4 linked regions of the Homo sapiens genome follow. The protein of the gene in region 1 purifies or fractionates together with the protein of each later gene. This does not show direct contact. Each region holds a gene or a part of one and is shown in the gene's direction. Other genes may lie near its edges. The genes, in order: OGFOD3, ATP2C1, EIF2AK3 and CLGN.

Region 1 (6,692 bases):
GAGCCAAGATCCTACCATTGCATACTGCATTCCAGCCTGAGAAACAGAACCAAACCCTGTCTAAACAAAAACAAAAACAAAAAACAATCCAGCAAGGGGAGAGGCCGTGGGGCAGGTTGAGGAGTGACCAGGTGTGAGCTTCCCACTGTCTTCTCCCGGAGTTGGGTCAACAGCTCTTAGTTCTCCAGCAGTGATGTGTGATGATATTCGGGGGTGTCACTGACCAGGGATGCTCGGCCGAGCCTTGGTGTCCAGGGTTTTTACTGGGGGGCTGGTGGTGCAGGCACGGCTGGCCTCTGTCCCCAGCCCCTCTGGATGCTGAGCTGCTGCTCTGTGGCCCACGTCCCACCATAAGTGACACTGTCAGTGTGGACCATCTGGTGTGGCCCTAGGTCCCTGGTAAACAGAGGTTCTCCTATCAGGCAGGATGTTCTGAGGGCTCAGAGGTCCCCCCTGGGAGCCGGGGCAAAGGCCAGGCCTCTCTCTGGAGGGTGTAGGGTGTGCACCGCCCAGGCCCCTGGAGTCAACCCTTTACCACACAATCCCTGTCCTGTGTCCCCAGGATGTTTTTGTTTCCGGATGATGTCTTGTGGGTTCCAAGAAGTTAATGGACCGAGAGCCAGTGAAGCTGCTGGTGCGAAGGCTGGAGTCAGGTGTCCTCCGGGGACTCACCACCCGCCCGAGAGGGGAGAGACACATGCGATTCTGGAAGCTGAGAGCATTGCTTATTGTTGATTCCTTGGTTGCCGTGCTGAGTCCTGCTTTAAGGAAGCAGGTGATAATCTAATAGTCATTTACTAAAGAAAGTGCATCTTAGGCCGGGCGTGGTGGCTCACGCCTGTAATCCCAGCACTTTGGGAGGCCAAGACGGGCGGGTCATGAGGTCAGGAGATCGAGACCATCCTGGCTAACACGGTGAAACTACATCTCTACTAAAAGTACAAAAAAATTAGCTGGGCGTGGTGGCGGGCGCCTGTAGTCCCAGCTACTAGGGAGGCTGAGGCAGGAGAACGGCGTGAACCCAGGAGGCAGAGCTTGCAGTGAGCCAAGATCATGCCGCTGCAGTCCAGCCTGGGCAACAGAGCGAGACTGTCTAAAAAAAAAAAAAAAAAAAAAGTCCTTTTCTGGCCCCGTATTGATCTCATCTCCGTCTGAGCCTTCAGTAGTGTGGATGGTGGGTGGTTTCCTGCCTCCCACAGCTCACGAGGCTCAGCTGTCCTCCATCCTTCCCCCTGTCCTTTGGTGCCTCTGTTTGCAAGATGTGCAGAAACACCAGAGGGCCAGAGGAGACCCTCCTTTTACTGAATGCTGGCAGCCTCCTGAGAACCACGTCTGCCAGCAGTAGAGAGCAGAGAGTGTGGACGAGCATGGGCGACTGAGGTCCCAAATGGCGCGAGCCGCTGGGCCCTCCTGCTTGTGCCGATGTCTCAGCCTCGATTGAAGCTGGAAGAAACCAAGGACAATGTGTCCTTTAAAAGTGTAAGGTTAGAAGGTGCCCTGACTCCAGCCGACCTGGAAAAGGACGTGTCCTGCATATCTGGAGGTGGCCCACACGGTCCGGGAAAGATCGGCTGCCTTGCCTGCATCCCAGGGCGCTTCCCGGCCTCCATTAAGAGGTGACCATTGCATCCACGTGATTTCTTTTGCTCCACTATTTCCAGGCACAGTGCAACTGACTCCCTCTTGAAGCTAGAATGCCCTGCACACCCGGGATGGACTTCTCTCCCCTTTCAAAGATCGAGTGAAGTTTGCAAATGTGAAAGGAAGGAATTGCATTTCCAGTGGTAACCTTTGAAGGGGAATGAAATTGTCACAGGACGTCAGGAGCCACGTGGGGGAGCCCGGTGTCCTCTGAGTCTCAACGCCCCTTGCTTCCCACTTGGTGACGGTCGATGGCTGTGTCCAGCGGTGAACGCTTTACCACAGGACTCTACGGTGGGGTAGGCAGCGCCACTTCAATGTGAAGACAAATGAACTGGCGTCTCTTGAGATAGGCCCCTGCCTCCAGGACCTCTCAGGCCCCGGGCCCTGGTTACTGCCGTGGAAGCTGCCTGTTCAGACGTCATCTCTATCACCCCTTGAAGGGAGACAGAGAGGTGTTTGCGAGTTGGATGTTTTATCTTGTCTTTCCTGATTCTTTGTTAGAACACCCCCAGGGCTTGGTTTTTGTTCTCAACCTGTGATTAGAAATAAGATCCTAAAGTGTCAGATCTGGAAGGCCCATGAGAGCTGAGGAGATCAAATGCCCGGAGCTCGGGAGATCAGATGACCTGGGGTGTCTGGAGCCAGTGGTGGCCTCATCTGCAGCATCTTCCTCTGTCCTGCCCACCACAGAGTCCCTGCTGGCCCCGGGGGGCCCCTCCTCCGCCACAGGGCCCCTGAGCATTGCTGCGTTTGTTTCTCCAGCTCCTCCTTCCTGCAGAAGCAGTTCCCAGAGGGGCAATTTCTCCAGCCTGCCTGGTTGGTTGTGTTGATTGGTTATAGTTGCTCTTTCAGGTGACCGCAGACCCTCTGAAGGCTGTGGCCGTGGGTGTGGCTCTATGGCCACCTCTCTCTCTTCTCCTCTCCCAGGTCGCGTCTCCTTCTTCACCTCGGGGTCCGAGAACCTACACCGCGTGGAGAAGGTCCACTGGGGCACCCGTTACGCCATCACCATCGCCTTCAGCTGCAACCCCGACCATGGCATCGAGGACCCAGCGTTCCCGTAGCCAGCAGCCGGGCCAAGGTAACTTCAGGAGGGCCCGTGTGGAGGCAGCCGCGCCAGTCGTGCACCCACCCCCACGTCCACCCGCTCCTGTTGCACAGAGTGCCTTAGGAATTCTCTGATTTTGATTTGCTGACGTGTTAATCTTTTCATCTGTGAGTAAATGAAGGGAACCAGCTTTTCACTTCTCCAGCATCATGTGTGCTTGGGCTGTAGGCCTGGGAGCCTGAGGTGGAGGCCAGGAAAGGGACCCAGCAGGACGGGGCACAAGTCCCCATCTGTGAATGGACGGGACTCATCCACCCAGGTTCAGCAACCCCCCGGGACTCGTCCAGGTTCAGCAACCCCCCGGCCCATCAAAGACTGGCTAAAGCATCAGCCATAAATGGGGACAAACGTGGGGCCAGCAGCTTCTGTTCGGGGTCTCGGCATCAGCAAACCGCAGCAGCTTTGGAGAAGGGTCCGTGAGTGGCGGCTCTGGAGGCAGCAACGGGGTCCTTTGGGGTGGGTGGGAGTTCTGCTGGATTCAGGTGGAGGTGAACATCTGCCGTTCCCACAGCCCTGCGTGCACCCCCAATGCTGCTGGCCCACAAATCACCGTGGGCCACGGCCCCACCACACCAGGCTTGGCCCTGTCAGCGGCCAGCATCCCAAGGGCCAGGGTCCGAGTGTCCTCACCAAGGAGGCTCTTGGCGTCGCTGTGCCGGCTCCCATGGGCCTTCTGCTGGGTCGAGGGTAGGTCTCCTCCTCCCCCTTTGCCCTGGCATTAAACTGATGGTCAGGCTGGGCGCGGTGGCTCACACCTGTAATCTCAGCACTGCGGGAGGCCGAGGCAGGAGGATCACTTGAGGTCAGGAGTTCAAGACCAGCCTGGCCAACATGGCGAAACCCTGTCTCTACTAAAAACACAAAAACAAATTAATCCCAGCTACTGGGGAGGCTGAGGCAGGAGAATCGCTTGAACCCAGGGGGCAGAAGTTGCAGTGAGCCGAGATCGTGCCACTACACTCCAGCCTGGGTGACAGAGTGAGACTCCATCTTAAAAATATAAAAATAAAGTGGTGGTCAGAGGAGCCCCGAATAGACCAGTTGTGGAGAGGCCTGGGTGGGGTGGCTGGCAGGGAGGGCAGGCCAAGCCCAGTTTCTGCCCACAGTCACCTCGAGGTGACTGTCCAGGGCTTTGGGCACCTTCCCGGGAGGGGGACGGCCGCCCACCCTGAGTGGTGTTGGAAGCTGGGCTCTCCTGGATGCCCTGACCCAGCTGCCTGGGGAGAGCCCTGGGCCCCTCCTCCCTCAGCACCTCCTCCCTCAGCCCCTCCTGCCTCGGTCCCTCCTCCCTTAGCCTGTCTGGCATAGATCCATGTTCCCTAGCCCCTGGCACAGGTGCCTCTGACTGGAGGAGGCCCCACCTGTGGCCCGGGAGCTGCTCTGGGGGTTGATAAAGGGCAGCATTATTGGGTCCTGGGAAGGAGCGGGCGTGAGGCCAGCTGAGGCATGGTGACCCCTGGGAAGGAGCGGGCGTGAGGCCAGCTGAGGCATGGTGACCCCTGGGAAGGAGCGGGCGTGAGGCCAGCTGAGGCATGGTGACCCCTGGGAAGGAGCGGGCGTGAGGCCAGCTGAGGCATGGTGACCCCTGGGAAGGAGCGGGCGTGAGGCCAGCTGAGGCATGGTGACCCCTGGGTACGGGGGACTTGGGGGCCGCACCTTGGTTTGCCCAGGGCCCCTCCTGCACCACGGGCCACATGCGGAGGACGGCGTGGGATAGGCTCCCTGGGTCCACAGCTTCTGCCCGTGTATGGGGAACCCTCCTTGGTCAGGGCTGCAGGCTCTGGGCAGATGGGGCAGGAACCCTGAGGCTCCCGCGCCCTCCCATGGCCTCTGATGTGGGACACTGGAGCGAGGCACGATTCTGAAGGACTCCATGGATCTGGGAGGATGAGGCCCACCTCCGGTTGGTGGCCAAAGCCGTCCTTGCGGGGCCGGCTGCTTCACGGACACTCTCCGGGTCGGGCTGGTGGGCCCCATCGTGGGTGGGAAGTCGCCTGAGCCTGGGCCGCCCTTGAGCTTCTCCCAGTCTTGACTTTCCAGAGGGTCCGTGGCTGTGGTCATGGTCGGGGCAGGTGGAAAATGCTGCATGGAAACCTGATCCTGTCACCTTGGAGTAAATGATGATGTCGCCGGCTTCTCGCCACGTCTAAAGGATAAATGCATTTGAAGAAAGTGGGTGTTGGGTTTGTTATGGGTTAAAGTGCTTTTGAAATAAGTAAATTATTAGTTTGATTTTCATTCTTGGCTACTTACACTATTCATGATAATCACAGAGATACTTGGACAAAGAAATATATTTGGGCAAAAGCAAGAATTTCCTTCTTTTTTTTTTTGAGACGGAGTCTAACTCTGTCGCCCAGGCTGGAGTGCAGTGGCGCAATCTCGGCTCACTGCAAGGTCCACCTCCTGGGTTCCCACCATTCTCCTGCCTCAACCTCCCGAGTAGCTGGGACTACAGGCGCCCGCCACCATGCCCGGCTAATTTTTTTTGTATTTTTAGTAGAGATGGGATTTCACCGTGTTAGCCAGAATGAAGAATTTCCTTCTGAAGTGGGAACATATGGCTCATGCTGGTAATCCCAGCACTTTGGGAGGCCAAGGTAGGAAGATCACTTGAGCCCAGGAGTTGGAGACCCATCTGTGCAACATAGTGAGACGCTGTCTGTACAAGAAACTTTTAAAAAATGTAGCTGGGCGTGGCAGTGTGCTCCTGTGGTCCCAGCTACTCGGAGCTGAGGCAGGACGACTGCTTGAGCCCAGGAGGTCGAGGCTACAGTGAGCTGTGACGGCTCCACTGCATTCCAGCCTGGGAGACAGCAAGATACTGTCTCAAAAAAAAATTTATCATTGAAGCCTGGGCATTTTAAAAAAATAAAAAGGTGGGAAAATACGTGGGCACAGCAGTGAATCCTCACACCCTGGGCTTTGCCCAAGAAGTGCTCGTGAACCTGATGAAAGTGTCGGGTGTGGCCGACGTGAGGCTGTTCCAGGAGCCACGAGGGGTGATTGGTTCCGCTAGAAGGTTCCAGGGAGGAACTGGAGTCTCAGGTGTGTCCTCTGATGAGTGATCTATTTTTAAGTAAAAGTGTTTCATTAAAGTCAAAGATGATTATTCCTTTCAAAATAAAGAATCTAGGAGGGCGAGTCCTGCTGTCGGGAAGGGAGATGTTTCCTGCTTCCGTCCGTGCTCCTGACCTGGCGGTGGCCCTGTCCCTGCTACCTGCGTGGACAGAGTCTCCAACACGCGGCAGCCACCAGAGCCAGGCCCGAGCGCACAGCCGTGCATTGCGAAAGCAAAGCCGAAACACGAGGTCGCCGTATGTCAGCCTGGGGAGTACAGAGCCCCAAGGCTGGGTTTCTTGAGTTGTGTGGAAAGCTCCGTGTACATGTCCCGAGTTCTCACGAACGAAGGGGAGGAAGCCACGAAAGCAGAGGCCACGACGGTGAAGTGGGTGGGGGGGTTCCGGGGAGGGGTTCTGGGGAGGGTTCCGGGGAGGGCTCCGGGGAGGGGCTCCGGGGAGGGGTTCCGGGGAGGGTTCCGGGGAGGGGTTCCGGGGAGGGTTCCCGGAGGTCTCCGGCTTTCTGCAGGGCCGAGGCCGGGAGGGCCTTAGTGCCGTGTGGGTGTGTGGTCGGGGCCTGTGAGGCCACAGGGTGAGCAAGGAAAGCCGTCCATTTTTATGTATGGGAGACTCGTTTTCAAAGGAAGGGAAACGGGCGTGACCCTCCCATCATTGGTCCCATCCCGGAAGACTCGTCACCATGGCCAGCCTGGAGCTGACTCTGTGTGGTGTGTGGGTCACTGCCAGGAACCCACGTGGCAGCCACCTCTCACCCCACCATGGTCACAGCCCTGGTGTGCAGCGTGGTGGCCTCTGCTCCCTCCACCTTCTCTCTTGATGGGGACCCTGGCCCGGCTCTGCCCAGCCCTGCTGTGCTTATC
Region 2 (7,815 bases), on another chromosome or scaffold:
ATACATGGTGGTGTCAGTTTCACAGTGTTCAGGTGGGGATCATGTGAATCCCATTTATTTATTTATTTATTTTTTTGGTAGCTACCTGTTGGATGACCTGAGTTTAGTGATAAATTCCAATTATATGTTCCAGGCTGCTTTATTACTCTGTTTTGGCCTACAGGGAAACATTTGGGAGCTTAGGACTCACAGTATTTGCCAAGCTTTTGCAAGGATATGAGTTTTTTCTTTCCATTATTATAATTATATAGAAATCTTAGAAGAAATGGGGAGTTGATTAAAAAGCATAGATTTTCCTGGATTCAGCTAAATGAATGAGATAATTTATATGAATCCTTGTAAACCATGTTCTTCATTTAATTCCTCTGCAACATGTGATCTACTTGATGTGCAGGAGCAACACGTAGCTTAAATTCTATAATTCCTATATATCTCATTGCCATTTGATTCCTGACATGCATTAGTTTAAACCTTTACTCTGCATTTTGTACCACTAAGAAAAATGAGCTTAGAGGAAGGTGAAGAAGATAATCATGGCTGGGCAGGGTACCTCATGCCTGTAATGCCAGCACTTTGGGAGGCTGAGGTGGATGGATCACTTGAGCCCAGGAGTTCGAAACCAGCCTAGGCAACATGTCAAAACCCATCTCTCCAAACAATACAAAAAAAATAGCTGGGAGTGGTGATGTGAGCCTGTGGTCTCAGCTACTCTAGAGGCTGAGCTGGAGGATTGCTTGAGCCAAGAAGGTCGAGGCTGCAGGTAAGTCAAGGTTGTGCCACTGCGCTCCAGCCTGGGAAGCAGGGCAAGACCCTGTCTCAAAAAAAAAAAAAAAAGATAATCATTTTATGTATTATGAATGTGAAGTATTTTCTCTTGTGTGAAGAGACAATGCATGATTTTAATGTTGAAGTATCTTCTTCAGAATAAGAATTTTAATATTGTGACAAATTAGTTCAGGTAGAGCTTAGGCTTGACTTTAATTCTTTGCTAAAATAAATGTTTCCATATTGATACATGTGTTGTATTAGTTGGAATTTTATTTTATTTATTTGTTTGTTTGTTTGAGTCAGTCTCACTTTGTTGCCAAGGCTGGAGTGCAGTGGTGTGATCTTGGCTCACTGCAACCTCCGCCTCCCGGGTTTAAGCGATTCTCCTGCCTCAGCCTCCCGAGTAGCTGGGATTACAGGCATGCGCCACCACACCCGGCTAATTTTTGTATTTTTAGTAGAGACGGAGTTTCGCTGCACCATGGTGGCCAGGCTGGTCCGAACTCGTGACCCCAGGTGATCTGCCAGTTTCGGCCTCCCAGTGTGCTGGGATTACAGGCATGAGCCACAGTGCCCGGTTGGAAATTTATTTTCAAAATTAGCTCTACAGTGTTTTAGTATAGATACATTTTTGTATGATAATATTTTCTCACTTCATCTTTATTTTTTAAATTTCAGGTCTGCAATCGAAGAGGGTAAAGGGATTTATAATAACATTAAAAATTTCGTTAGATTCCAGCTGAGCACGTAAGTTTGCAAGAAATTTGTCACCATGGGTCTTCTGGATAAATTATATGAAAAGTAGAACTTAAGCAGAATGCCTAGAAACTTCTCTGCCTTATATTTGTGAGCATTGTTCATATGTCAGTTTTCCAAAAAGAAAATTTATTGTATTCTGAAATTTTAAATGGCATGATAAATAGGTTGTAAATGTAACAGTTAGATGTCTGTATCATCAAAATGTATAAATCTTTGTGATTTATTTAATAGCTCACATCTCATTGTTTCCTCTTGGTATCTTTTTCCAAAAGTAGAAGGGGTATTGTGTAGTCAAAGAACAGTTACCAAAATATTGTTGAAACTATCATGCAGATGTAAAAATTCTTTATTTGTTCCTGTTGTCTAAACATCTTGAAAATCCTTTGTTAAAATACTCTTAGCTTTAAAATGTCCACGTGACTGAAGAATAGTTTACTTGAAACAGTCTTCCTTTAAAAGCATAGTAGTAAGAGATTTTTAAATGCTAAAAAAGTGGTATCATAGAATCAACAGATTTACTCTACTGATATTTTTAAATGACTCTCTTTTTCAACAGGAGTATAGCAGCATTAACTTTAATCTCATTGGCTACATTAATGAACTTTCCTAATCCTCTCAATGCCATGCAGATTTTGTGGATCAATATTATTATGGATGGACCCCCAGCTCAGAGGTACGAGTTTTTTAATTGCATGAGCTGGAAAGACAAGGAATGTGTACTACCCTGATAATTAAGTTTTAAAACTTGATTTATGGACAGTGTTGGAAAACTTTGCAGCAAATGTTTTAACATTTATGTTATAAATTGTGTGATGTGTGTATTTTATTAATTCTTTTTGAGTGTGCATGCAGTGTAGATCTGAGCCTTTCCACTGTTAGATGCCTAGCCTAAGGTTGAGAATAGATCAGGAATAGGTGCTATCCCTGTCCTCAGGAAGTAAGTAAGCCTTTTATTTCTAAGAAATGGGTATAATGGAGAAATTTCTGGGTTCAGTTTTATTATCTAGGTTCTACTGTCAGTTTTAGAGACTTTGGGAAAGTATTAGAGGACCTGAGTGTCATAACTTTTTTAAAAAATTTAATAATAATGGGGTAGTTGAGTGATAGATGTCATTTGGCCACTCCAGCAAATCATCCCAGTTAAAACCTCTTTATATGAAAGATATTTCAAAATTCAGTCGGTAGGTCATGTATTTCACACCGTATTTGAAATAGGTAAACTTACATGTAAATGAATTGGATGGTTTTTTGAAAGTTGATTATCTATCCCCTATCAAATTGTGCCAAACAAATAAAGAGGAGAGAAAAAGTGACAAAATCAGTGGTTATTTTTGCGTAATCAGCCAGCGTTTTATGATGCAACATTTTGTTTCTATAAGAAAGCATTTAGTTTGCCGAATAATTGAGGTTAGTGAGGTTGTGAAAGTAACAAATCCAGACCTTAAAACTTGAAAGTAATTTATTTTTCTGTTTGTTTTTAAGCCTTGGAGTAGAACCAGTGGATAAAGATGTCATTCGTAAACCTCCTCGCAACTGGAAAGACAGCATTTTGACTAAAAACTTGATACTTAAAATACTTGTTTCATCAATAATCATTGTTTGTGGGACTTTGTTTGTCTTCTGGCGTGAGGTATATTCACTGGCCAAGCTGCTATATTAACATGAATTCTGTATATCTGATAGGATTCTTAGTTATTTTGATGGGTTACCCAGAAGGCTGGGAAGTTAAGGGAGCTCTTTTAGTGAAAAATATAAGAACATTTTAAAAGAGTTTGATTTCCATCTTTATGGATAAATAAAATTATTGATTCATGTATTAGAATAAATCTGCAGAGAAGTATCAGTTACAATAAAAATACATGAAAATTTAGAGAGAAGTTGGAAAATCTGAGTCTTAAAATCATAGAGCCACTTTATTATTTTTAAATAATAACAGTATTTTAATATCTAATACATAGTTCATGAGAAGTTTTTTTTTTACTTTTTATTATGTAGATTACAGCTATTCACTAGGTGATTTATAGGAAATTTAGGTAGCTTTTATGTTTCATGTGTTAGGCTAAAGTTATTTCTTCCTAATGGAAAGAAAATGTTTATATTTTTTAAAAAGCAGCGATTTATCCATTAAATTCAGCCACTGAAAAGTAATTTTGTTATTGCCTCTTGACAGCTACGAGACAATGTGATTACACCTCGAGACACAACAATGACCTTCACATGCTTTGTGTTTTTTGACATGTTCAATGCACTAAGTTCCAGATCCCAGGTATGTTTAGGTGAACTTAGTTGATTGACTTGATTGACTCACTTGAGTAGAGTGCTTTCTAATAAGTAGGCAAAGATTATGGGTTTTTAGCTTTGCTTAATTTTGTAGCCACAGATTGCAGCCCCAGACACAGCCTTCTTATAAACATGTGCCATTGGTCACAATGAGGATGGGGCATTTGTGGGAGGTAAGCTTTATGTCTGACTAGAACATAAAAGTATTAATAATTCACAGGTGTTGTCATCTGCGTTTAGCTGGCTATAGCTATAAGATAGATCGTGGTTAACATTATTTGAGCATAGAACAAACCTCATAGTTTCTGTTGAGATTTTATTAGTCTCATTTTAAAAGACAGTATTGCTAGGAGTATAAGAGCAGTTATGTGCCTATTTTTTTTCCCATCACTCCTGTCACTGTGTCAAAGCTTAGGACATTCTAATTTTGCTTTTCTTCCCTTGTTGTATCTTAAGGTGTGACTGCTGCTTCTTGGTCTAAGTGTTTTGATAGAAAATAATGGGCTAGAGCTTTATGGTACTTTTTTAGAGCATATTGTCCTTAAAAACTAGTTTCATTTGAGGCATGACTATTCATTTCAGCTTTAAAGCACTTTATGAATCCTTAACTATATTACCATTTGCCATGCTGGAACTTCTGAGTACAGCGAATTCTCACTAATTGACCAATTTTTGAAGAAGCTGTAATATTTATTTTTTTATGAAAAGTGGTTTTACTTTTTCAGTACACACACAATTAGGTCCATTCTCCAAGAAAGGATTTTAGATTATCTACCTTAGTGAATGTATAGAAATGATTTAGCAAAATACAAATAAAGTTTCTTGATGTTTGGGATGTTAAAAGGTTTCTTTTCTTTCTATGGTCTAAATTATATAGTGTCACTTTTTAAGCAAGCCTTTTCTTGATAAATAAAATAAAAGCTACTTTAATATTTACTTTTATTCCATCTGAATTATTCCAAAACAGTAGTAAAATTTAAGATATTTCATAGAATTGACATTGCACAATTCAGTGATAAAGTGACACTGCTTGTTAAAAATTAGAAGTGAATATAATAAAGAAGTTATTTCTGTGACCAAGGAGTAATAAATGAACTCTCTGCTCTGCCAACAGACCAAGTCTGTGTTTGAGATTGGACTCTGCAGTAATAGAATGTTTTGCTATGCAGTTCTTGGATCCATCATGGGACAATTACTAGTTATTTACTTTCCTCCGCTTCAGAAGGTTTTTCAGACTGAGAGCCTAAGCATACTGGGTAAAGAAAACGTTATCTTTATCATTTATGTATTTTAGATAAATCATATTTTCTAATGTGTTTGTTTTAATTTTAAAATTCTTTTAAAATAGCAAAATAAGTAACTCACTTGATTTGAAAAAGGAGTCTATTTTTTCACTTGGGGAAGCTCAGGGGAATTACTCTCCTAACTCCAGGGTTTTGGTTTTTGCTCTTTTATAGGTTATCAATTGTTATAAAAATCATAATACGTGATTCTCAAATATAGCAAATCAAAACCTGCTCTAGAGTATAGTTTATAACTTTTTATGTACTATGCCATCTTGTATGAAGAGAAAACTAGACTTAATCTCCCTGAAAACCAAGTTGCTCTCTTCTTTAAAGTTAGAATTTTCAGTAAACTAATAATTTCATTATTCTTTCTTGTTTGTACATTCTAATTTCACAAAATGTCAGTCTGACCAAATAGCAGAATGTTTTATAAAGACTATTTGGAAATTACACATTTTTCTTACATTACCATTTATTAAATGTATAATACAGTGCATTTAAAAATTAGTTTTCCTGTGTAGGTGTGAGGAATGATATATTTGACAGTAATGCTATCCTTTATTGAGTTCTCAATTTGGGTATTTATGAAAAGGAGTTATACAGTTTCACTGTATTTTTTCTTGTAAGTTAAAATTTACCTTAAAATTGAACTAGTTGAATTTCAGTATTTTAATTCCATATTCACATTTCTTCCTCTTTTTAAAAAAATGGCATTTTAAGGAAACATCTGCAATTTTCCAAGCAGTAAATAAGAATTGAGATAGTGTGGATAGTATTGTAAAGACAAGTCTTCTATGCTTTGAAATAGAACATATTAATGTCAAATTTTTAATCTTCAGATAGGCATTGTCATTCAAATTGTCTACTACTGTTGATACAGTACTTTTTTAAAGGGCTGTGTGATCTATGAAATAAACTCCTTTTGTTGGTGATACTGTTAAAGGCTAGCCACATAAGGTTTCAGGGAAAGTGGTCAGAGGACTTGGGTTCTAATTCTGGCTGCTGCCTTTCCTAGTTATGTGACTTTGGATAAGTCACTTAATATCTTTTTTTCTTTTCTTATTTTTAACTGAGGGTGATTGTGCCTGCCTTATGGAATAGTTGTGAAACAATGTGTTTGAAAGCTGTGGTGGCCAGGCGCCATGCCTCACGCCAGTAATCCCAATACTTCGGGAGGCTGAGGCAGGCAGATCACTTGAGGTCAGGAGTTCAAGACCAGCCTGTCCAAAATGGTGAAACCCCCTCTCTACTAAAAATACGAACATTAGCCAGGTATGATGGCACATGCCTGTAATCCCAGCCACTTGGGAGGCTGAGGCAGGCAAATGGCTTGAACCCAGGAGGCGGAGGTTGCAGTGAGCTGAGATCATGCCACTGCATTCCAGCCTGGGTGACAGAGCAAGACTTCATCTCAGAAAAAAAAAAAAAAAAAAAAAAAGTTGTGTTAAAATGCTAGAAAAATGTAAGCTATTAAGCTTTGCAACTGTAAGTTTCAAAGAAATGTAAAACCCAACTTATTTTCTCTTGCAGATCTGTTGTTTCTTTTGGGTCTCACCTCATCAGTGTGCATAGTGGCAGAAATTATAAAGAAGGTTGAAAGGAGCAGGGAAAAGATCCAGAAGCATGTTAGTTCGACATCATCATCTTTTCTTGAAGTATGATGCATATTGCATTATTTTATTTGCAAACTAGGAATTGCAGTCTGAGGATCATTTAGAAGGGCAAGTTCAAGAGGATATGAAGATTTGAGAACTTTTTAACTATTCATTGACTAAAAATGAACATTAATGTTAAAGACTTAAGACTTTAACCTGCTGGCAGTCCCAAATGAAATTATGCAACTTTGATATCATATTCCTTGATTTAAATTGGCTTTTGTGATTGAGTGAAACTTTATAAAGCATATGGTCAGTTATTTAATTAAAAAGGCAAAACCTGAACCACCTTCTGCACTTAAAGAAGTCTAACAGTACAAATACACTATCTATCTTAGATAGATATATTTTTTTTTATTTTTAAATATTGTACTATTTATGGTGGTGGGGCTTTCTTACTAATACACAAATAAATTTAATCATTTCAAAGGCATTCTATTTGGTTTAGAAGTTGATTCCCAGGAGTGCCATATTTCAGCTACTGTATTTCCTTTTTCTTGTAATGTAAGCAGCTCAGATACCATGTGCTATCATTTTTGTATCAAGTTTTTTGCACAGGATGTGACCACTGTCAGATCACTGTTCTTTTCTTTCTTTTTGTGATTGAAAAGCCTATACTACAATTTGAAGTAAATTTTTGTTTTTCTTAGTAAGTGTAAATGGTTGCTTTATTTTTATTTTAAAAAGGTATGTCTTTGGTTTGGCAGAATTCATGCAGGGCTATCAAGTGGTGTTCTAGGGTAACAGTGTCCATAATTAACGCTTAGTCATAGAGTCAAAAACATTTAAGACTGATTGGGTTGAAGTTTATAATAAATTATATTAACATGTCTTCCTTTTTGAGGTAAAGATATATACTTTGTCAAATATCATTTTGTCATCCTCTAAATATAAATCCAAATACCTCAGCTAAGTAATTCTATTTTATTATTTTTACTGTTATGTATGTTTTTAATCATATTTCTTAGGAAGTATAGGCTACTGGACTTAGAATAAAAAGTCCCCAAACCCAAACAAATGGTTTATGAACCAGAGTATATGTGGAAGATTCTTTGCTGGTCTTGCTC
Region 3 (7,000 bases), on another chromosome or scaffold:
TATTTCTCCCACTTTTAGCACAGACTGGCCACTCAGCTCTCCTAGCCCAATGGATGCACCATCAGTTAAAATACGCAGAATGGATCCTTTCGCTACAAAAGAACATATTGAAATCATAGCTCCTTCACCACAAAGAAGCAGGTCTTTTTCAGTAGGGATTTCCTGTGACCAGACAAGTTCATCTGAGAGCCAGTTCTCACCACTGGAATTCTCAGGAATGGACCATGAGGACATCAGTGAGTCAGTGGATGCAGCATACAACCTCCAGGACAGTTGCCTTACAGACTGTGATGTGGAAGATGGGACTATGGATGGCAATGATGAGGGGCACTCCTTTGAACTTTGTCCTTCTGAAGCTTCTCCTTATGTAAGGTCAAGGGAGAGAACCTCCTCTTCAATAGTATTTGAAGATTCTGGCTGTGATAATGCTTCCAGTAAAGAAGAGCCGAAAACTAATCGATTGCATATTGGCAACCATTGTGCTAATAAACTAACTGCTTTCAAGCCCACCAGTAGCAAATCTTCTTCTGAAGCTACATTGTCTATTTCTCCTCCAAGACCAACCACTTTAAGTTTAGATCTCACTAAAAACACCACAGAAAAACTCCAGCCCAGTTCACCAAAGGTGTATCTTTACATTCAAATGCAGCTGTGCAGAAAAGAAAACCTCAAAGACTGGATGAATGGACGATGTACCATAGAGGAGAGAGAGAGGAGCGTGTGTCTGCACATCTTCCTGCAGATCGCAGAGGCAGTGGAGTTTCTTCACAGTAAAGGACTGATGCACAGGGACCTCAAGGTCTGTATTTGTGGAGCATCACCCTTGGGGTTTCAATCTGACGTTTTGTGATTCAGAGCAGTACTTGCAGTACTCTGAAGGATCCTTAAGAGTTGGGGAGAGTAAAAGCATCTGAGAGCAGAGGTCTGAGAAAGTAGCCTCGAAGGGGCCTGCTGCAAGAATAAGAAGTCTTATGTCTGAAAACTTTAGGCAAACCATGCATTCATTGTCTTCAGTAATGTGTTTGTGTTCATTTTACTGTAAAAGGTATTCTCAGTAGTCCAGGTGAGGGAAAAAAAAGAAAAAAGAATCTTTAGGTAAAATCCACCATGAGCAGATATAGCCTGTTTTTTTGTTTGTTTGTTTGTTTTTGTTTTTCTATGGTTTTGAGTAACCCTGACACCAATACCTCCAGGGCTCTGAAGCAGCATGGTGAAAGGGATCCGAATGGAAGGAGAGACATGGGTTCCTTCATTAGCCAGCTTGAATTGGGGCAAATCTCCACACTTTTGCTTCTTTTTCTGAACTGTTTAGACTTTGGGGGAAGGGGTAAGAAGCCGAATGGGGAAAGGTAGCAAATAGTTAACAGATGACTGTTTACAGCTCTAAAACCTTGGATTCTATTTTCAATATATTCAGTAGTGAATTTTGCAGTAATATAATATGCAAAATTATTAAAGAGTCTTACTAAAACATGACATTTCCGTAGTAGTGTTTCTAAAAATAAGTACATGGAACTTTTATTTAACTAATTTCCCACATTCCATATACTCTTAGCCATCACCAGTAGATGTGGAGTGAATGTATAAATACTTTTCTGATGAAAGTAGCTTAAAGTCTTGATAGATGTGGATCCATTTTAAGTCTTTTCAGACTTAAAACAGACTTGTTTCAGGCACAAAAGTAGCTATTTGGACACAAGTTATTTTCTTCTAAAATCAGCAGTAGGTTTTCAAATTCTTGGGTATATTTTAAGAGTTTTAGGGTAACAAGAATAGGAATTAGAAATAATTCTTATTTTTTAATATAATTGTTATTTAGTCATATAAATCATTATGCTTCAGTGATTTTGACGTGGGCCCAAACTGATTGCCAAGAATTGTTCTGCACTGAATGAAAAGTTCAGAGATGAATTATTTGGTTGGATTGGAGAAGACAGTTTACAGGAGACCACACACCCCTAATTTGAGAGAATACTAGCAGTTAGGTTTGAATATAGTAAACGCTTATCACTAGGTGGGAAACAGCTAGCTGAAATACACATTCTTCTTGTACTTAACACTTGCTGTACACACAAATGCCAACTTGAAAGACAATGAATCATGTTTTCACTAATAATGAATATTCTTCTGCTAATTTTATAATGTAAATGAGATATTGGTAAATATCCATTTAATGCTACAATGTTGTCTAAAGATTTTTCTGTAATTGTCTATGCACCAGAAAAATTGCAAGAAGAAAGTTAATATTCCTGTTAGTTTTTCTAGAAATCAGAAAGTTTTATTCCTTTCTAAATAGAAGACAATTCCTTTTAAAGATTTCTAGTGCGCCACCCCCAACCAAAAAAAAAAAAAAAGCCAAGATTTTTGTTCCTGGGTGAAAAAGCTGTACATTTTGCTACGTTCTGACCTAAATCTTTGAGCTCAATGTTAAACCTTCTAGGCCCTCTCCCCCTGTTATATTTTGGTCACATTTTTGTCTTCAGGACTTTGGCTCCTGCCTCTTCAGACTAACTTCTAGTCTTCTATTTTCTCCACTCTGAACTTTTCTCAGTTCCTCTTGATATACACTGTTCTGACAGAAACCTGGTCCTTCTTCATTATTCTCATCACACCTGGATTATTTATTCTGTGGTTTCTATGGGGTATGAACCATATCTGTTTCTTTTACCTGTTATAGTCTCAGTACAATGCCTGAATGTTCTAGATGGTCATACCATTTATTTTGAATTTTATTTTCTTTGCACTCAAAAGTGTTTATACTGACTTAACCAGAAAAGGAAATCTGTTGGCCCACATGGCTAAACTGTTGAGAATTCAGGTAAAGCTTTAGCTGAGATCAAGTGATTTAGCCAGAACCTGGTTTCTGTCCTCCCCATTTCTTGTTTCTATTTAAGTCTTTTGGAGTTGGTGGGGTAGAGGGTGGAGAGAAAAGTATTGCTTTTTCCCACTATCAGAAATTTTATTCTACTTAAACCAAGGACACCTACCCATCCCTCAACAATCCCTAGCCAGGCAATGGGATTCCATGGATTGGCGTAAGCAACTTTTAGAGCATGGATGCCTTCCACACTAACCGTGGGGTTTTGCTGCACAGTCAGCAAGAAGGAAGTTCCCAAAGTAAAGTCAAGATACTTCTGCTGGAAGCACAGGGAGATAGATACTGGAGAGCCAAAAAGCTTGTCTATTATAGGGTTCAGTAAATAACAACTGCCATCAGATGTTGGGAGTTGGGAAGAAAGATGACATTTAATGCAGGATAGTCTATTATTGCCTCTGGTACAAAGTTATTTATTGGAGAGCTGCAGATTATTACCATAGATCTTATACACAATAACTTCATGCTTCCAAGTCAAAATCGTTTAATGGTATTTTAGAGTTTGGGAATGCAATGTTATTTTCTGGCAGTATTTGAAACATGATGAAATTCAATTTCATGAGCTAAATGGCTTCCTTTTTCCTCATTTCAAGGGCTATGAATGGTGGTCATATTACCCGCAGAGTAGAGTAGACTCTGAGGGAGAGGTGATGTATTTCATGTAGGGCACCTTGGGTTTGAGAAGCCCATGAGACCTCTGGTTAGATGTATTCAATAAACAGTGTAATATGAGTTTAGAACTCAGGGCAGAGATCTGGGAGTAGATATAGTCTTGAGAACATAGAGGTTTTACGAGAGGCAGCATAGAGTAGTAGTGAAGAGCTCTTATCCCTTCTGATAATCTATATCCCCCTCAGACGCAAACCAAAAGATCAGTCTGTTTCATTCATTCACCAAATAGTAATTAGCTACCATAGAGCAAGAACTGGACTGAAATCTGGGCACGTGGCAGTGGATCACAAGGTCCTTTCCTCATAGAGCCAGACTGCTCAGGTCTGAATCCCTGCTTCACCACTTGCTAGTTGGGTAACCTTGGGCAATTTGTTTAACTTCTGGGCCTCACTTTCTATGTCTGTAAAATGGGGTTAGTACTCATCTAATGGGGTTGTAGTACATGAGTTAGTAGTAGTAAACTGCTTTGAACAGTGCCTAGCACATTGCAAGTTCTATTTATGAACTAGTTATTATTAGTTATAATTATTAAGGCTTTAAGTCATAAGTGTAGAGATGCTTGCCTGGGAAGAATATATAGAATAATAAGATTGAGGATTAAGTACCATGATCCCTAGGGAATGTGCACCTCAAAGGGTTTAAGTAGATGTTCAATAAATACTAGCACTCTTTGCTACCCTTCCCTTTTCTTTACTAGCAGTACTTGTCTGGCACAGAAAAATTGTCACTATTTTCCTGTTAGCCCATTTTAAAAAGAAATATGCTTGAAAATATCTAGTTTGTTGTATTTTTTCTTTGTAGTCTTTTAAATAATTCTCTTTACTTTTTCGCCTCCATGCACACCCACTGTACTTTTGTCTGTTGTATTCTTTCCAGCCATCCAACATATTCTTTACAATGGATGATGTGGTCAAGGTTGGAGACTTTGGGTTAGTGACTGCAATGGACCAGGATGAGGAAGAGCAGACGGTTCTGACCCCAATGCCAGCTTATGCCAGACACACAGGACAAGTAGGGACCAAACTGTATATGAGCCCAGAGCAGGTGAGTTTTTCAGACCTTTACTTACTAGCACAGCAGCAGATGTACCTGATGAATCTCTTCTCATGTTTTCATTAAAATACCCAGTAATCTAAAACCCAGTAAGTCTGAAAATTATGAAAACTGGCAGTAGTGTTCCAGTAGTGGAATAGTGACACAGCTAAGATGTAGTTTCTACAACCTGAATTGGGGCTGGATTAAGAAAAATACAACACATAAAATGCACTCACCCCCTGAACAAGCACCTGACAGCAACCAGGAATTTGGAAAGAGACTTTGAATGCCACCCTCCCAAACTTAACTCGTTTGCCTTGTGTAGACTGTGTTGGAACTGTTTTCAGAGCCAGCTAGACCCAGAGGTACTATACTGAGCTGCCCTTTGTGGTCACTCATAGGCAACTTCCAGCATGTACCACAGTAGGAAATAGAGGCACACAGGCCGGCAGGTGTTGCCTTGTGGGCTGCTTGGCCTTCACAGGAAAAGCACTGTAATCAGGGCAGGGACTGGAAGAGCTGGGGGAGCAGGGCATCCTGGAAGCATCAGGCGAGCATGCTCAGCCACCACCAGGCAAATGATCTTCACAAGCTTCTCTATGCTTAGAGCAGCGGGTCTCGGACGTTTTGGGCTCAGTACATACTTACACTTGTAGAAATAACTGAGAACCCAAAAGGTTTTCTTAACAAAATTTTATCTATCGATATTTGTTATATTAGAAGTTAAAAGAGAAATTTATAAAACTTTATTAAATCAACTAAATAACAATGAAACCTATCACATCTTAAGATATTTTTATGAAAAATAAGTATTTTCTAAAACAAAAAAAAATTACAGGCACCAATTCCCCTGCAAAAAAAAAAAATTAGAGTGACATTTGTTTACATTTTTGCCAGTCTCTTTAAAGCTAACTTATAAAAGTGCTACATTCTTCTATCTGCTTTTGTGTTCAATCTGTTGCAGTATGTTATTTTGGCTGAAGTACATGAGGAAATCTGGCCTCGCACAGATATGTAGTTGGAAAAAAGAGCAATATTTCATTTCAAGTAATTGTAGATATTTTGTCTTTGATAGTATATCAAAACTTAGTAAATGATAGTTTCTTAGAAGTCATTTACACTGTGGAATCTAAAACCATTCATGAATATTTTGTACTCTGGTACTTTTAACATCCCTTGGTCCATTTTGTACTTTGAATGGATCTTTTTACCCATGCTTGACTTTACATTGTGCATTAGTCATTTGGAAACTATTGGTTCCCTAAGTTTGGCAACTATTCCAAAAGTCATCACAGTTCATTATGTAATATAAAAAGTCACTTTGGTTAATACAACCACCAATCTCACCAGAAAAGGCTTTATGTACATATTAGGAGGCTATCAAATTCCCACTGGTAGACTGAAATCTTCCAAAATTTTAATTTTCACTTAAAAGCTCAACTTTTAACATTGGCAACAAATACTGTTAGTTTTCCTTGAAATGCCATTCTCACATTGTTCATCTTTTTTTCTCTTTAAAAAAAAAATGTTGTTTGTTTTTTTTTTTGAGATGGGGTCTTGCTGTGTTACCCAGACTAGTTTTGAACTTCTGGCCGCAAGCCATCCTTGAACCTCAGCCTCCCAAAGTGCTGGGATCACAGGCGTGAGCTACCATGCCCGGTCTCATTGTTCATCTTTAAGAAAGTGTCCCTCGGCCAGTCGCAGTGGCTCACACCTATAATCCCAGCACTTTGGGAGGCCGAGGCAGGCAGATTACCTGAGGCCAGGAGTTCGAGACCAGCATGGCCAACATGGTGAAACCCCGTCTCTTGTAAAAACACAAAAATTAGCTGGGCATAGTAACGCATGCCTGTAGTCCCAGCTACCCAGGAGGCTGAGGCACAAGAATTGCTTGAACTTAGGAGGCAGAGGTTGCAGTGAGCCGAGATTGCACCACTGCACTTCAGCCTGGGTGACAGAGCAAGACTCCATCTCGAAAAAAAAACTCTCTGTCAAGTATCCAAGTCTCAATAACTGTAGTTTGTCTACCAATTATTCTTTCAAGTCAAAATGGTGTTCTATGAAAAGAGCAGCTAGAGCATATTGTAACTCAAATAATTGCACAAATGCTAATGATACTCACAAGCTAATCTATGCTTACATCAGCAGGTCTCAACTTCTTAAAATTAGTTTGTTTTTTAAATTGACTCATAATTGTACATATTTATGGGGTACATACTGTCGTTTTAATACATACACTATTTAGTGATTGGATCAGGGTTATTAGCATATCCAAGGTATCAAACTTGGAGACAACTATTGTACTTTGGTATGGAGCATAAATGTTTTTCTGAATATTTTCCATTTTGTCAGATTATTAAAAAGGTGTATATTTAAAGGTTGAGATTTAATAAATTAATAATTTCTACTGCTAAGGAC
Region 4 (7,850 bases), on another chromosome or scaffold:
CTGGAGGATGGTGGCCCTCTTCTGACAGTTCCACTAGGTGGTGCCCCACAAGGACTCTGTGTGGGGGGCTCTGACCCCACATTTCCCTTCAGCACTGCCCTAGCAGAGCTTCTCCATGAGACCCCCGCCCCTGCAGCAAACTTCCACCTGGGCATCCAGGCGTTTCCATACATCCTATGAAATCTAGGTAGAGGTTCCTAAACCTTAATTCTCAACTTCTGGGTACCCACAGGCTCACCACCTGGAAGCTGCCAAGGCTTGGGGCTTCCACCCTCTGAAGCAGCAGCCTGAGCTGTACGTTGACCCCTTTTAGCCATGGCTGGAGCAGCTGGAACACAGAGTACCAAGTCCCTAGGCTGCACAGAGCAGAGGAGCCCTGGGCCCAGCCCACAAAACTGTCTTTTCCTCCTAGGTCTCTGGACCTGTGATGAGAGTGGCTGACATGAAGACCTCTGACATGCCGTGGAGACATTTTCCCATTGTCGTGTGGATTAACATTTGGCTTCTTGTTACTTATGAAAATTTCTGCAGTGGAGATTTTCATTTCTATCACATTGTCAGGCTGCAAATTTTCAAACCTTTTATTTTCTGTTTCCCTTTTAAAACGGAGTGCCTCTAATAGCACCCAAGTCACCTCTTGAGTGCTTTGCTGCTTAGAAATTTTTTACACCATATATCCTAAATCATCTCCCTCAAGTTCAAAGTTCCACAAATATCTAAGACGGGGCAAAATGCAGCCAGTCTCTTTTTTTATATATGCTGTGTGGTATGGATTGAAAAATGTACTTATTACATGTGAATATTCAATTGTACCACCACAATTTGTTGAAAAGACTAGGCTTTCTCTACCAACTGCATGTGTACCTATGTTGAAAACCAGTTCCCCACACTGTCTTATTCTGTTTTGTGTTGCTATAACAGAACACCTGGGAATGGGTAATTTATAAAGAAAAGAGATTTATTTAACTCACAGTCTGGCTAGCTGGGAAGTTCAAGGACATGGCTCTGGCTTGTGGTGAGGCTTTTGTGCTAGGCCAAAAGATGGCAGAGAAGGTCAAAGGGGAAGCAGACGCATGCAAAGAGGGAAAACCTGAGGGGCACCCAGCTTTATAACAACCCATTCTCATGGGAATGAATCCAGTCTCGTCAGAGCAAGAACTCACTCACTACTGCAATGGCATCAAGCCACCTACGAGGACAGGACCTTCATGACCCAAATACCTCCCATTAGGCCCCACTTTCCAGCACTGCCACACTGGGGACCAAATTTCAACATGAGTTTTGGTTGGGACAAACCAACCATATCCAGGCCATAATACATACACATGTAAGTCTATATAGAATCTATTCTGTTCCATTGATTTGTTTGCCTTGATACTAATACTCTTTGATAACTCTTTGATAACTATAGCTGTATATCATTCTATAAATCCTAAAGTCGGGTAGTGTTTCTGAGGGGGGTTATCTTGAGACACAAGAAAAAAACTCAGCATGGGCTCATTCTGCCAACTATATAGTTTAACCAGACGAATTCTGGGAAAAACAATGATGACTATTGTCATTACTATTATTTACTATTGTTTGATATTTTTGTTAAAGTAATAAGGAAAAAAACCTCAGAAAATAAGTATAAATATAAGAAAGAAAAGATCATTTTCTGCCATAGACATAATTATACATCTTGAAAATAAAAGTCAACCCACTGGAAATACTTGTGGAATACTTTGTTTCCTTTTCTCTATTTTCTGCACCATTAAAAAGCACATTCCTAAACATATGAAAATATACAAACATTTTTAAAGTATTATTTGAATTATCTAGGTTCTGAGTCCACTCATTGTATTTGAGTTAAAACTTCATTCTGCATAGCTCTTTAATCCTGATAATCGAGGCATTTCCTATATTCTGCATTTTTCAAGTGGCAAGGTGTTGTGGAAAGGGCACAGGCTTTGAATCCTCACTCTGCATCTTAAGATCTGTGTGAATAAGTTATGTAACTGATCTGGGTCTATTTCCTCATAAGTAAAATAAGGATGATACCTGTGGGTCAATTGCATATAGCAACTTGCACATAGTAGAACATTAATAAAACACAGCTCTGATTTTGATTACAAAACAGGCTTCCAACAGGACATCACTCTGTTCCATCAAGGAGCATGAACCTTTCTGCTTTTTTTTTTTTTTTTTTTTTTTTTTTTTTTTGACACAATGTCTCACTCTGCCATCCAAGCTGGAGTGCAGTGGCACTATCTGGGCTCACTGCAACCTCTGCCTCCTGGGCTCATCCCACCTCAGCTTCCTCCCACCTCAGCTTCCCAGGTAGCTAGGACTACAGGCATGCACCACCATGCCCAGTTAAATTTTTTGTATTTTTTTGTAGAGATGGGGTTTCATCATGTTTCCCAGGCTGGTCTCAGGCAGCTCGGCTCAAGTGATCTACCTGCCTCAGCCTCTCAAAGAGCTGGGATTACATGCATGAGCCACCATGCCAGGTCACCTTTCCTGCTTTTTATGTTTTTCTAGATTTCTGATTACTCTAGTCCCTCCAATCTTGATTACATTGCCTTGGTCTCTTCCCAAATCTCTCTTCAACTTTGATGTGTCAGAACACTTCACGACTCTACCATTCAGCATTACATTCTGGGACTCCTCCGCTTGTATTATTAAACACTACATCACTCTCAAAAGCCATACCCCTTGTCTTATTTGCAGATTATTCTTTCTCCTCTGACATTATCACATTGTATTATTCTGATGAAAAGTTGCCTATTAAACAAATTATAAATATTATATTCAATCATCCTTTCAATAAGTGGCAAATAATTTTGGAGATATGTTAAGGCCTTAAATTTCAAGGTTAGAGATTAGATTTCATGCTGTGGGTAATGAAGGGTCATTGGAAACTATTGAATGAGCTGAGGATTAAACTACGAAGTGTAGGTGGGAGGCTCTGAAGGGGGGCAACTAGTTAGGTAACTCTGAACAACAGTTTCTAAAGTAGTGAGAATCTAAACTAGAGAAATGGCACAGGGACTGGAGGGGGTGAGGACCTCTTTTAGATGATTTTATGGAGTTAGAGTTTAATTTATGGAGGCAGTGAATGTAGCAGCCAAAGAGTAAAAAAATGTTCTCAAGGTTTTGAGTACTATGTGACCAAGAAGATACTACTAAATCTTGCAAAAATTCACTATTCTTACATTTTTAGTTTTCAGCTTCCTCACTGCAAACTTTGAATGGATCCTTTAAAAAATCCCTCTCTAGCAGTTCAAGTGTATTTGTTATGGGCCACAGAAGTATGTTGAATAATAGAAGTCAGAAGGACGGAAGAAAGAAATAAAGGGTATAATATTGTTACAAAGTATCTCAAACAAAATGTCTTTTTAACCAGTAAATTTTAACACTATCCAAACACTCTCCCAGAGATGACAAAGTCAAAAGTTTAGAAATGCTGGTCTTAATTAGTGAAGCAATGTGAAAAAACTCAGTGATCTTGACCCCTAGCCAATAATGATACGTTGTGCACGGAATGCCACCAAACCCTTAAGATTGAAACTCTTCAACAAGGGTCTTAGACTCACAAGTCAATTAAATGTTGTTAATTAATCTTCCAATAAAATTAAATTGTTATACCAAATTCAAAGTCAAGATTTACTATAAAATATTAAGTAGTAAAATTAATATTGATCCAATATATAAAAGGCAAAGCAGCTTGTGATTGCATAATCATAGCATAAACTACGTTTATGCTAAGATTTATTTCAATGTGTTTGAAACTACAGGCTCTGAGAGAGACAGGCCTGATTTACATCCCGTTTCCACTGTTTACATGTTGTGTAACTTCGAGCAAGTTGCCATCAGTTTCATCACCTGGGTTGCCACGAAGGTTAAACAATGAATGTAAGCCCCTTAGAGCACAATGAACACAATAAATGTTAGCAGCTCTTATTAATAGTGTTGTTCGAGAGAAAAAGAACATATTGTTTTATATACAATGTATTTATTAACACTTAACGCATCTGTATTTGTCATATACACACACCAGACAGGAAAGCTCCTTATTAATCACCATGACTGCAGATCTGTTAACATCTAGAACTCTGGAGAAAACCTAGAGCCCTAATCTTGCTGCACTTATTACTGGACGTTGTTCATAAATATGATTTACATAAAATTCAGGACCCAATCATTGCGCAACAGGAGGTAGCACGGTCTGCAGAGAGGGCGGGAGCTCAGAGGAGGAAAAGTCTTCGGACTTGCAGGGGGAATTCCTCCTGGGCTAACCCGGGAGCGGGGTCCAGGCCACAACCGGCCGGCGGCGGCACAGGCTCCATGTGCGGCTCCCCCTGGAGGCGGTTGAGCCCCTCGGAGCAGGAGCGCGTAGCACACACCTCGGGCCGCCACCGCCTCCCGCCCGCCACCGCACGCGCACGCGCGGTTAGTAGTCGCTGCTGCGCGGCCGCCGGCGGGACTGGTCTGAAGAGACGCGGGGACCAAGTGGCAACGACTTGGACATCTGAGCTGTCACTGCCGAAAACAGGCCGCAAGAGAGGTGCGTGAGCAGCAGGCCGCGTTCCCGCTGTCCCGCTGCCCTTTGCGCGCAGATTGGGGTGAGGAAGCGGAGTCGTTGCTGCTTCCCCCAGGCACCCCGTTACTTTGCCGCCAGAGGGCTGAACCGGTCGGGGCCAAGTGAGGGTGGATGTTGAGTCTGGCGATGGGGCTGCAGCGAGCTAGGGTCTTGACTGGGCTCTGGCGGCCCCGTGGGTGGACGCAGGAGGTGGTGCCACCTGGGACCCTTTGTGTCTTCAGCACCGCCGCATCCACCTGCTGCGCCCGGGCTGGGGCGGACGAGCACGGGGACAGCTAGGTGCCTAGCCCGGCCGGCCTCCCCTGCGGGCTTGAGGAGCCACCGGGAGCCGAGGCCGTTATTCCAGCGGTTGCCATTGCAGCCCCGTTCCACGCTTGAGCCCGGGGCGCTCTCCCAATGGTTGTAGAGGGGGCCCGGGGCGCGTCTGGGCGCTGCTCACTCTGCTGACTGCTCCTTACAGAAACCCAAACGAGATCAAAATAGGCTCGGCTGTCTCAGTCTCCACCTATGTGGAAGCGAAGGGACCCCACTTCACGGCGGTGGGGCCAGGGACTGTTGGCCGCTCCCTCGATACCCGCGCAGAGCCCATTGTGCGCCGCCGGGGGGCGGGCGAAAGGGCTGGGTTGAATCCAGAGAGGCCCTAATTACTAGACTCATTATCGCCCCAGGCCTGTTTACCATCAATCAGACACTTTCGCTGATTTTATTTATAGCATCTGCCCAAGCAACAAAGAGGAGGTGTTTGCTTGGGAGTTAAAAGCAAATGGCAACCAAAGCTCAGGACTGGGAGAGAAAAGGTAAATAACGTGGCCACAGGAAGAAGTCTCAAATTAGAAAAGAGTTCATTAACGTATAAACTTTTTGTTGCTTAAAAGCAGGCAAAATCCCGATCTCATCTGATGATTTTGCTTGTTTTACAAATGTCGACATCACTCGAGGTAGCCCTCCTTTGGGTCATTGTAAGTTTGACCTGTTTTCAGTTTGGAGTTTTGCCTTCACGTCTTATTGGTTTGATCTTCCAGTAACATTTAGATCTCATCTCCAAATCCTCAGAACAAGATATTCTGTACTCTCTGTCTTAGCTAGTTGATAAGGTTAATTATTGTGTGTAAATGATGTAAGTATGTTGATGCATTTGTCTAGAAATTGAAGTGTTGTAAGTTAGCTGTAGTACTTTTTAAGTACCTAATAAATACTGGTGTTTTTAAATAGAAAACTAGAATTATGAACTTTAAAGAATCTTTGGATTGTCTAGTTCACGTCACAAATGAGAAAACAGGCCCACAGCAGTTTTTATCACTTGTCTTTTTAATAATAAAACTAGAAACTTGGTGCGATTGTGCCATGTTGGGTGTACTTTTTATTATATCATTCTACATTGCATTCCTGAAGCCACATGACAACTAAAACTTTAAGTAATAGGTGATTGTCAAACACCACTTCTGGAATATACCAGTGTTGGTCGGATCCTCAGTCAGCCATTAAAACTGAATAACAGCAGAAAGGCATCGCAGTTATAAGAAATAGCATGTACAAAAAGTGTGTTAAATAGGTGTGTTGAGAGTGAAAGAAGGCCCGGCGCGGTGGCTCACGCTTGTAATCCCAGCACTTTGGGAGGCCGAGGCGGGCGGATCACCTGAGGTTAGGAGTTGGAGACCAGCCTGACCAATATGGTGAAACCCCGTCTCTACTAAAAATACAAAAATTAGCCGGGCATAGTGGCGCGCGCCTATAATCCCAGCTACTCGGGAGGCTGAGACAGGAGAATCGCTTGAACCAAGGAGGCAGAGGTTGCAGTGAGCCGAGATTGTGCCACTGCACTCCAGCCTGGGTGACAGAGCAAGACTCCATCTCAAAAAAAAAAAAAAAAAAAAAAAAGGAATTACAAAAATGTGTCACAGAAACATAAAGTGACTATAGTGTTGGAAAAATGGCAGCTGTAGACTTGTTCAATGCAGTGTTGCCAGAAACCTTCAATTTGTGAAAAATGCAATAAATCAACGTGCAGTAAAATGAGGTATGCCTGTATGTACACACACACACACACACACACACACACACACACACACACCCTATTGATTCTGCTTCTCTGATGAACTCTGACTAATAAAATGACTCTCCTCCAAGTAATGATTCAGGGATTCTGCAACTTCCTACCTTGGAATTTTGCCGTTTTCAACCATGACCTTCAAAATTGCTTGCATCAAACCAGAAGGGGAAAGATCATAAAGAATTATAATTCATAATTATAGGAAGTTTTTATGGGCAAGGGCTGACAATGGCATACAGGTCTTCTATTTACATTCTGTTGGCTGGAACCAGGTAATGGTCACATCTAGTGCCAAGGAAATTACCCTTGTGATCAGCCAGCAACTTCTCCCACACTATACAACACATATTGCATATCCTGTGATTGTCTTTTCTTTGTGTGCCTTACTTACCTTTGATGTGACAGTGAGCATTACTTCAATACCAGTACATGAGCTGCACTTTATAATTTGTAATTTGGGGGTGGTAGTGGAGATCCAGTAGGGTTTTTAGGAGATATTGGTGTAATTATTTAAAGTAGACCAGACTACTTGATCTAGATTTCAAAGATTGGGAAGAATGGTATCTCATTCATGGATAAAGTTACTTGTGCTTCAATTTGTTATTGAACTACCACAGAAGCAGTGCAGAGAACATACATGAGATCAAAGATACGTGTTGGTGCAGAAGGATGTAGTTCTTCAGTGCCTCCCTTCTTATGAAGGCACAACTGATATTTAGTGATCTCAGCAAGCCTCATGGAGTGAGGAATACATAAGAAGCTTGGAACCCTGGGCATGCTACCTTTTAATTTATAAGGAGGGAAGAGGGTGACATTAGCACTAAATGTTCTACCCTATACCATATAAACAAATTCTTGCTGTACTAAAATTATATAACTTAAACAACCATACAGATCAATAAAGAAATAGATAACACCACAAGCCAACTAAACATAATAAACATATGGACAACACTGTACCCAACAATAGCAGAACACACATTTTTCTTAACTGCACATAGAACATTCTCCAGGATAGACCATATTAGACCACAAAACAAGTCTTAATGAATTTTAAAAGATTGAAATCATACAAAGTAAGTTTTCTGAACACAAAGGAAAGGAACTAGAAATCAATAGTAGAAGGAAAACAAGAAAAATTCACAAATATGTGGAAATTAAACAGCACACTCTTGAACAATGAGCCAAATAAGTCTCAAGAAAAGTTAGAAAAAC

The links.
Region 2: the proteins of OGFOD3 (region 1) and ATP2C1 purify together in Homo sapiens (affinity purification with mass spectrometry; 3 studies listed by BioGRID and IntAct, with this or other methods). This does not show direct contact.
Region 3: the proteins of OGFOD3 (region 1) and EIF2AK3 purify together in Homo sapiens (affinity purification with mass spectrometry; 3 studies listed by BioGRID and IntAct, with this or other methods). This does not show direct contact.
Region 4: the proteins of OGFOD3 (region 1) and CLGN purify together in Homo sapiens (affinity purification with mass spectrometry; 3 studies listed by BioGRID and IntAct, with this or other methods). This does not show direct contact.

The regions. Positions count from the first base shown.
Region 1 is NC_000017.11:82,388,414-82,395,105, reverse strand, and holds the end of OGFOD3 (2-oxoglutarate and iron-dependent oxygenase domain-containing protein 3), read left to right. Parts: intron 1-562; coding exon of another isoform or gene 563-735; exon of another isoform or gene 736-775; intron 776-2,571; coding exon 2,572-2,708; 3' UTR 2,709-5,896; downstream 5,897-6,692.
Region 2 is NC_000003.12:130,994,597-131,002,411, forward strand, and holds part of ATP2C1 (calcium-transporting ATPase type 2C member 1), read left to right. Parts: intron 1-1,446; coding exon 1,447-1,515; intron 1,516-2,083; coding exon 2,084-2,200; intron 2,201-3,009; coding exon 3,010-3,157; intron 3,158-3,697; coding exon 3,698-3,793; intron 3,794-4,921; coding exon 4,922-5,063; intron 5,064-6,623; coding exon 6,624-6,754; 3' UTR 6,755-7,815. UniProt on the Homo sapiens protein: ATP-driven pump that supplies the Golgi apparatus with Ca(2+) and Mn(2+) ions, both essential cofactors for processing and trafficking of newly synthesized proteins in the secretory pathway.
Region 3 is NC_000002.12:88,568,465-88,575,464, reverse strand, and holds part of EIF2AK3 (eukaryotic translation initiation factor 2-alpha kinase 3 isoform 1 precursor), read left to right. Parts: exon of another isoform or gene 1-18; coding exon 19-799; exon of another isoform or gene 800-951; intron 952-4,423; coding exon 4,424-4,591; intron 4,592-7,000. UniProt on the Homo sapiens protein: Metabolic-stress sensing protein kinase that phosphorylates the alpha subunit of eukaryotic translation initiation factor 2 (EIF2S1/eIF-2-alpha) in response to various stress, such as unfolded protein response (UPR).
Region 4 is NC_000004.12:140,424,236-140,432,085, reverse strand, and holds the start of CLGN (calmegin precursor), read left to right. Parts: upstream 1-4,437; 5' UTR 4,438-4,549; intron 4,550-5,298; exon of another isoform or gene 5,299-5,382; intron 5,383-7,850. UniProt on the Homo sapiens protein: Functions during spermatogenesis as a chaperone for a range of client proteins that are important for sperm adhesion onto the egg zona pellucida and for subsequent penetration of the zona pellucida.